Linked DNA regions of Homo sapiens. The protein of the gene in region 1 purifies or fractionates together with the protein of each later gene. This does not show direct contact. Each region holds a gene or a part of one and is shown on either strand. Other genes may lie near its edges.

Region 1 (3,645 bases):
CAGGGCCTGGCATATGTCAGTCTTTACTATGGCAATGAATTCAGCTGTTCTTTTTTTTTTTTTTTAACAAGCAATCAAGTGTAGACACTATATACAGTTACTACGCAGGCTGCCTGGGTTCAAATCCCAGCCCTGACACTGACTAGCTCCATGACCTGGGGCAAGTCACTCAGCCTTTCTGTGCCTCAGCATCCCCATAGGAAAATGGGTTGTGGTGGTGCACACCTGTAATCCCTGCACTTTGGGAGGCTGATCTGAGAGGACTGCTTTGAGCTCAGGAGTTCAAGATCAGACTGGGCAATGTAGCAAGATCCCATCTCTACTAAAAATTTAAAAAATGAGGTTGGGTGTGGTGGCTCATGCCTGTAGTCCCAGCACTTTGGGAGGCCGAGACGGGTGGATCACCTGAGGTCAGGAGTTTGAGACCATCCTGGCCAACATGGTGAAACCCCGCCTCTACTAAAAATACAAAAATTAGCTGGGTGTGGTGGCACGTGCCTGTAGTCCTAGCTACTCAGGAGGCTGAGGCAGGAGAATCACTTGAACCTGGGAGATGGAGATTGCAGTGAGCCAAGATCGCGCCACAGCACTCCTGCCTGGGCGACACAGCGAGACTCTGGCTCAAAAAGATAAAAATAACAATAATTTGTTATTGACAAAATAATTTTGTGTAGGCATGGTGGCATTAGCCTATAGTCCCAGCTACTCAGAAGGCTGAGATGGGAGGATTGCTTGAGCCCAGGAGATGTAGGTTACAATGAGCTAAGATCGTGTCACTGCACTCCAGCCTGGGCGACAGAGCAAGACCCCATCTCAAAAAAAAAAAAAAAAAAAAGAAAGAAAGAAAGAAAGAAAAAAAAAAGAAAAGAAAAACAACAGGTTGTTGGGAAGACTTAATGAGTTGATATCATAAGGTCCCAAGGCCTTGGCTGGTGCATACAAATGCTAAGTGCTGGTAATGATGATTAATGTTGATGTTGGCTTTTCTTGTCTGGATTTTCATTTCTGATTTTAGTGTGAACTGAATCCTTTATGGAATTAGATGAGGCTCACAGACATGAAAAATACATCCCACCACCCAACTTCCCCTTTTTTCCTGCTGTCCTGCATCAGGGAATGGCAGCTTGAAGTTGGCATTTGGGAAGATTCATTCATTCATCCCACAGTTAGTTTCTTTATCTATTTATTTGTGTGGCCATTCATTCCACATGCCTGCAGACACACTTACAGTGGATAAGTCTAAGAGCTGTTCCTGGCCCCTCGTTCCCCAGCTGCATGTCCTCTCTGGTCCTCATTTTGCACATCTGTAAAATGGAGCTAATTACCAGGGACAGGCGCAGTGGCTCATGCCTGTAATCCCAGCACTTTGGGAGGCCGAGGCGGGTGGATCACAAGGTCAGGAGATAGAGACCGTCCTGGCCAACATGGTGAAATCTCATCTCTACTAAAAATACAAAAAATTAACTGGGCATGGTGGCACACGCCTGTATTCCCAGGTACTTGGGAGGCTGAAGCAGGAGAATCGCTTGAACCTGGGAGGCAGAGGTTGCGGTGAGCTGAGACTGCACCATTGCACTCTAGCCTGGGTGACAGAGCAAGACTTTTTTCTTTTTTAAAACAAACAAACAAAAAAACTACCTCCTAGGAGAGTTAGAAGGGTCCACTGAATTTATATCATGCCTCCCCAACATGTTTTCACCATGCCACGCAGTAAGAAACACATTTTTACATCCTGATGTAGCCCATAGCTCTGTAGTCTGGGGCAAACTGCTGCATTGCTCAAAGCCTCAGTTTCCCCATCTGTAAAACAGGGAGAATAACAGTCCCACCCTCAGAGTGTGGGGATGCAGTGGGATTACATGTATATGGATGCAAAAAAAAAAAAAAACAAACAAAAATTAGCATAACCTTTACTTACTGAGAGATGTACTGTGATAGTCTGTAATCGAATCTATTTCATACTTAAAAAAAAAACATGGTTTTCCAACTCACTAATTTAATTTTATGAGGCACTCATGAGTAATACACTGGTGTCTGAAAAAGTCTGGGTTAGACATGTGGGGTGCTTAGAATAGTGCCTGGTACATAGCAGGCACTCAATACAAATGCACTATTATGATTAGCATTTCTGCATGCATTTGTGCATTTATTCAACAAATACGCTTGTTGAGCTCCCGCCAGATACACGTGTCCTCCAGGGCTCCCCCAGAGGGTCCCAGCCTGCTCCACTCACCTGGGTACAGCGGCTCCTGGTCACTCCTGAGGAGAACAGCCACTGCAGAGAAGGGAGGGGTGAGGGCAGGCAGGCTGGAGGCTGCAGGGGCCAGGGGAGGTCAGAGGCACAGGAACCGCTCTCACCAATGGCCCAGGATGCCGCCCCGATGGCTGTCAGAAGTAGCAGGGTCCCCGCAGTGAGAGCTGCCACCTTGGGTCTGGAGCAGCATGGCACAGTCCGGCCACCTGCAACAGACACCATGCTGGGGCCACAGCCAGGCCTGTCCTCATTGCGGCAGGGTCTGGGCCCGAGGCCAGCTCTGCCCTGCCCCCAGGGCTAACTTATTATGCCCAAGCATGTCCTCCCCAGGCCCAGTTTCCCGGGGCCAGCAGTTGACAGGGCTGTTCCTCCCCTGCCGTGTGAACAACCAGGTGCCCAGCTCCCCCAGGGTTCCAGCTGGGAGGGGGGCATGGCCGGGCCACCTGCCACGGTCTCCACCTCCGCCCTGCACTTTCCTGGCACTTAGGGAATGTCTCCTCCCCAGTGACACTGTGCTTTTGTATTTCTGTCTTTGCTTTGGGCCATCTCTTCTTGGGACTGTGACCCCCAACCTTTGCCCTCTTGGTAGCTCTCTTCCCTGCCGCTGGCATTTCCTCGCTGCCTCAGTCGTTTCTGCTGTTCTAGATGCTTTGCCCCTAGATACCCCCTAAATCAGACCTCTCTCATGGTACCCAGTTGCAAGATCAAATTTGCCCCTCCACTTGAAAATCTGCCAGCCTCATTTTATTTTATGTATTAATTTTTTTAGCGACGTGGTCTTGCTATGTTGCCCAGGCTGGTCTCAAACTCCTGGGCTGAAGCGATCTTCCTTCCTCAGCCTCCCAAAATGCTGAGATTACAGGAGTGAGCCACTGCGTCTGGCCAGCCTCATTTAAAAATATTGACCCTACCCCTTCCTAGCTGGAACCTAAGGCAGGTGCCATCATATCTTTGAGCCTCAACTTTCTTATCTATTAAATGGGCATCCACTGAGCACCTACTTCTAAAAATAATAATTTAAAGTTATTTTCAAGAAGAAGAAGAATAGCTCAAATTGTATTGATGCCTCCAGGTGCTAAGCACCGTTCTAAATACATCAGCTCATTTAGTCCTTATTTCAATCCCACAACTATGATTCCTGTTTTTGAGATAGCTCAGAGAAGTGGGGTCACGTGCCCACAGTGACAGCCTGGAAGAGGCAGAGCAGCGTCCAGAACCCTGGGCAGGTTTGATGCCAGGTCCCCTGTGTACAGCCACGAAGCCATCCTGGCTCTCACTGTGCGGAAGTGCCTGGCACATAGCAAGTTCTCTATAAATGCTTTATAAATCATCAGAGATGTGTGGGCCTGAGCAACTCCCCTCCCCTCTCTGAGCCTCAGCCTCAGTTTTTT
Region 2 (3,745 bases), on another chromosome or scaffold:
GGTGGCTGCATTCCAAAGGTGAGTGTTCCAAGAAAGCGGGCAAGCCAGGTGAAAGTGTATCCTGTTCCTGATTCAGCCTTGGATCAGGTCTGTCTTACTCACTGGTCAAGGGAACCACAAGTCCCTATTGACATGCAAGGGGAGAGAATCATAAACCCCACCACTAGGTGGGAAGTGGACAATGTCAAACTATAACTACATGTGGAAGGGGATACTTACGGGTGAGGCCCTTGAGGGAAAATACAATCTGCTACACCTTCCTTTTTAAATAGAACAACTGCCCTTAATCCTGACCTGAGTTCCTAATGATGTCATTTATGAGACTGGCATGCAAGGCACAGACTCAAAACTGGCTTTGACTTTCTAGAGTTTTCACAACTCCTTTAGGGAGGTGACACAGCCAATCCACACCACCAGGTACAAAGACATCTGCACCATGGTGGGAGATGAGAAGTGAGTCTTTTCAGTACAAAACCCTTCAGCTAAAACCGAGGTGGCTCTGGGTAGGCGCCACCTGCCCCTATGGGGCTCACTCAGTTTCTGAAGCATTTGAAGGACTGCCTAGGAGCTGTGAGATCCTTTCTAACACTCTGATACCATGGTGTTCTCCAGCCTATTTCCTTTATCTGGCAAAAAATGTTTCTTAAATAGCAAGTGAACACCAGATAGTCAACTTCCAATCATGAGCAATAAGCGAGAAGTTATATTTAGCTGTAAAATTAAGTACAGAAGTGGAAGAAATGGTAACAGATTTTCCCTTCTATCTCTGCTTTGCTTAAAGTTAAAAAGCACTACGTAAAAATTCCAGAAAATATAGACATGTCACAGGTAATGGAACTCTAACTGAACTGCTTTCATGTTCGTTCTTAGACCTTGGCTGGACTCCTGTATCATGTACCAGGCCCATAATTTCAGGACGGAAAAAAAAGAAAGGTAGTCAGAGAAGATACACTAAATAATTCAAGAGTTGAGAGAATAAGACCTAGGAGGGAAGGGATGCAGGTTATTCATCCTGGAAAAGAAGAGCTAAATACAAGTGCCACAAAAGGCATGAGGCCTGGGATTCAGGCGATCCAGCCAGCAAGCCAGGCAACTTTGGACAAGTCACTTGACCCACTTGTACCTTAGTTCTCTCATCTATAAGGTGACAGGGTTGATTTGGTTCATCACAAGGTCCCACTGCCTGGATACTGACGACAGTGACAATTTCCCTACTGCCCCGAACAGTAATGAGTTTCCCTTGTTAACACAGGCCACTGAGGTCAGGCATACCGCAGTGCTTCTAACAGTGAGAATGAGACACAGAAGCAGGGAAATGGGTGAGCTCAATGGTCCCCAGAATTGGGAAGGACCAGGACGCAGTGATTGCTGATGGAAGGCAGATCCTGGATGATGTGAGCACGTAAGAGCAAAGGCTACACGGCCTGAAAAAATACCGTAAATGACTGAAAATAAAGCTGGGCAACATCTCAGCCAGTGATGTTCTAAAACAAAACGGCAGACCCACTACAGCAGCAAGGGTTAACCAAAGTGAAGCTTCAGCCTTCAGGGAGCCGGCCAGCCACAGTCCCTCTACTTCAGAGTTTATCAGACGCGGGCACTGCACGTCCCGGGGCTCTCTACTCCACACACGTTAGCAAACAGGAAGAAAAGTTTTCTTGCCAACTTATTATATATATATTTCAACACTGAATCAACATTTCCTTTCTGCTGAGGAGAATCAGCCTCTATTAACTTGGGGAAAGGATGCTGGAGTGAGGTTAGGGGGGAAAGGCCACTCCCCAATCCCACCCCCTCCCTGCCCCGCACGCACGGACGCCCGGGGCCGAGTTTCACAACATCCTCCCCAGTCCGCGGAGCCCGCCCTTCCTCTAACAGCTGGAGGCCCGGGATTCCGAAAGCAGAAGGCGGAGTTCCAACCTCTCGGCTCGGGAAGGGACTAACGCGCAGCTGGCACCGGGTCGGACCGGGCCGCTCCCCAGCCAAGCCCCCTCTCGCTAGCACTCATGGGCACCGGGGCTTTGGGGCGACCCGACGTCCCTTGGGCTCCCTCTCGGCGCCCGCGAGGCCTCCCCCGGTCTGACCTCCGTCCCCGGACACCTACTCACCAGGTCCTCCCGACGTCCTGGCCCCGAACTTGGCCTGCTCCGGGGCGCAGGGAGCGAGCCCGGTGCCCAGGCGCGTCCCAAGCGCTGCCGCGGCCGCCTCGCCTTTCGACTCGCCAGCCCTTTCTGCGGCGCGCCGGGGCCGGACGGCCGGGCGGGCAACGTGGCCCTTCCCCGGCAGGCGGGGCGGGGCGGGGCGGACTGAGGGGCGTGACCGACAGCCCCGCCGCGCCCCGCCCCCCGGCCGGCGTCCGCCAGGCCCCCTCCTCCTGGCCCGCCTCCTTTCCCCGCCGCTTCTCAGTCAACCCAGGACCCAAGTTTTCCCAGGACCCCAACTTCGGGAGTCGGCTTTCCGGCTCCCTGGCGCAACCCTGAGGGTGGACGCCCGACCCCACCCCTGCCCTCGGCCCTCCAGCGCAGCTGCCCAGCCTGGAGCCGCGCCTGAAGTGGGCCCGCAGTCCAGGAAAGGCGTTCACCAAACCCTAGGCCAAGGGCTGGGAGCCAGTCCCCCCACCCCAACCCAGGGGAGGCTGAGGAGCCCGGGTGGGAGCCCCAGGGTCGCGTGGGGCAGGGACAGAACAGGAACCAGGGTGCCCGACGGGGGGCCGGGGGGAAACACCTGTGCCAAAGCAAGCCGGGGCCAGCTGTGGCTTCTTCCCTTTTGTTTTTCCTTGGTGGGTGGGGAATGAGAGCTTCAGTTCTGAGTAAAGAAAGCGAAGAGAGACCTACCAGCAGGGGAGGCCCACCAGCCCTAGGCGGGAAGGACTCGGTCACAAGCTTTGGCGGAAGCACCATGGAAAAGCCTAGAACGGGTCTGCGCCCGGCTGGTGTTTTAAAGGGGAGGAAGGTGCGGACCTGAAGAGGAGGTGGAGGTGGACCCAGGCCCACCGAGGGGAGGGAGGGACAGCTCTTCCATAGCAAATACCTGTCGCTGAGCCAGGAGTAAAGTCTGGCCGGGAGGAGGACAGACGCAGAAGACCAGGGGCTCCAGCGCACAGAGCCAGTTTCGCCAGCGATCAGGTCTGAGGCCTGGATTCCACGAGGCCGGTGCAAGCCAGGAGCCAGCCCCACTCCCTCGCCCAGCTCCCTCCGGCCTGGCCCTCTGCAGAAGCCTGATGCCCACCCAGCTGTCTCACCATGGGACCCCAGGCGGTGAGGGTGGGTAGCCGAGGACTACAGGCTGCTGGGTAGCTGACTTCCCCAAGAAGGGCTGCTGCCATGTGATCAGGACCCACGCCCCTGACATCAACCCCTCCCCCGTGTTCCAGAGCACGGAGCAGCCCGGAACTCTGCGGCCTGTGGTTACTGACTGACTGCTCACTAACTTGTTTCTACATGAAACCACGAATCGTGCAGGGTTCTAGAGAAACAAAGGGCCGCGCGCACCCGCAGGCCCCTGCGTGGAGGCGAGGACCTAAATCAAAACTGCTAAGGGGTCACCAGGCATGGTGAGGGGCCTCACGGGCCAAACCCTCCCTCGGCCTGTCCTTCAAGCCTCAGCAGCTCTGCGGAGTGAGCGTTATCATCCCCATTCTACAGATAACTAGTTTGAGGCTCAGGGTAAGTGCAAACGTGCTGCAAGCCACCAGACCTGGTGGGGAGCATAGCCAGGTTTTAGACCGGGCACTCCTGTGCGCCCC

What was found. Proteins that work in one complex are often made in the same cells at the same time.
Region 2: the proteins of HPN (region 1) and MGAT1 purify together in Homo sapiens (co-immunoprecipitation; 2 studies listed by BioGRID and IntAct, with this or other methods). This does not show direct contact.

What each region holds. Positions count from the first base shown.
Region 1 is NC_000019.10:35,048,105-35,051,749, reverse strand, and holds part of HPN (serine protease hepsin precursor), read right to left. Parts: intron 2,488-3,645; exon of another isoform or gene 2,461-2,487; coding exon 2,359-2,460; intron 2,276-2,358; coding exon 2,234-2,275; intron 1,305-2,233; coding exon of another isoform or gene 1,229-1,304; intron 1-1,228. UniProt on the Homo sapiens protein: Serine protease that cleaves extracellular substrates, and contributes to the proteolytic processing of growth factors, such as HGF and MST1/HGFL. Plays a role in cell growth and maintenance of cell morphology.
Region 2 is NC_000005.10:180,800,572-180,804,316, forward strand, and holds the start of MGAT1 (alpha-1,3-mannosyl-glycoprotein 2-beta-N-acetylglucosaminyltransferase), read right to left. Parts: upstream 2,236-3,745; 5' UTR 2,109-2,235; exon of another isoform or gene 2,105-2,108; intron 1-2,104. UniProt on the Homo sapiens protein: Initiates complex N-linked carbohydrate formation. Essential for the conversion of high-mannose to hybrid and complex N-glycans.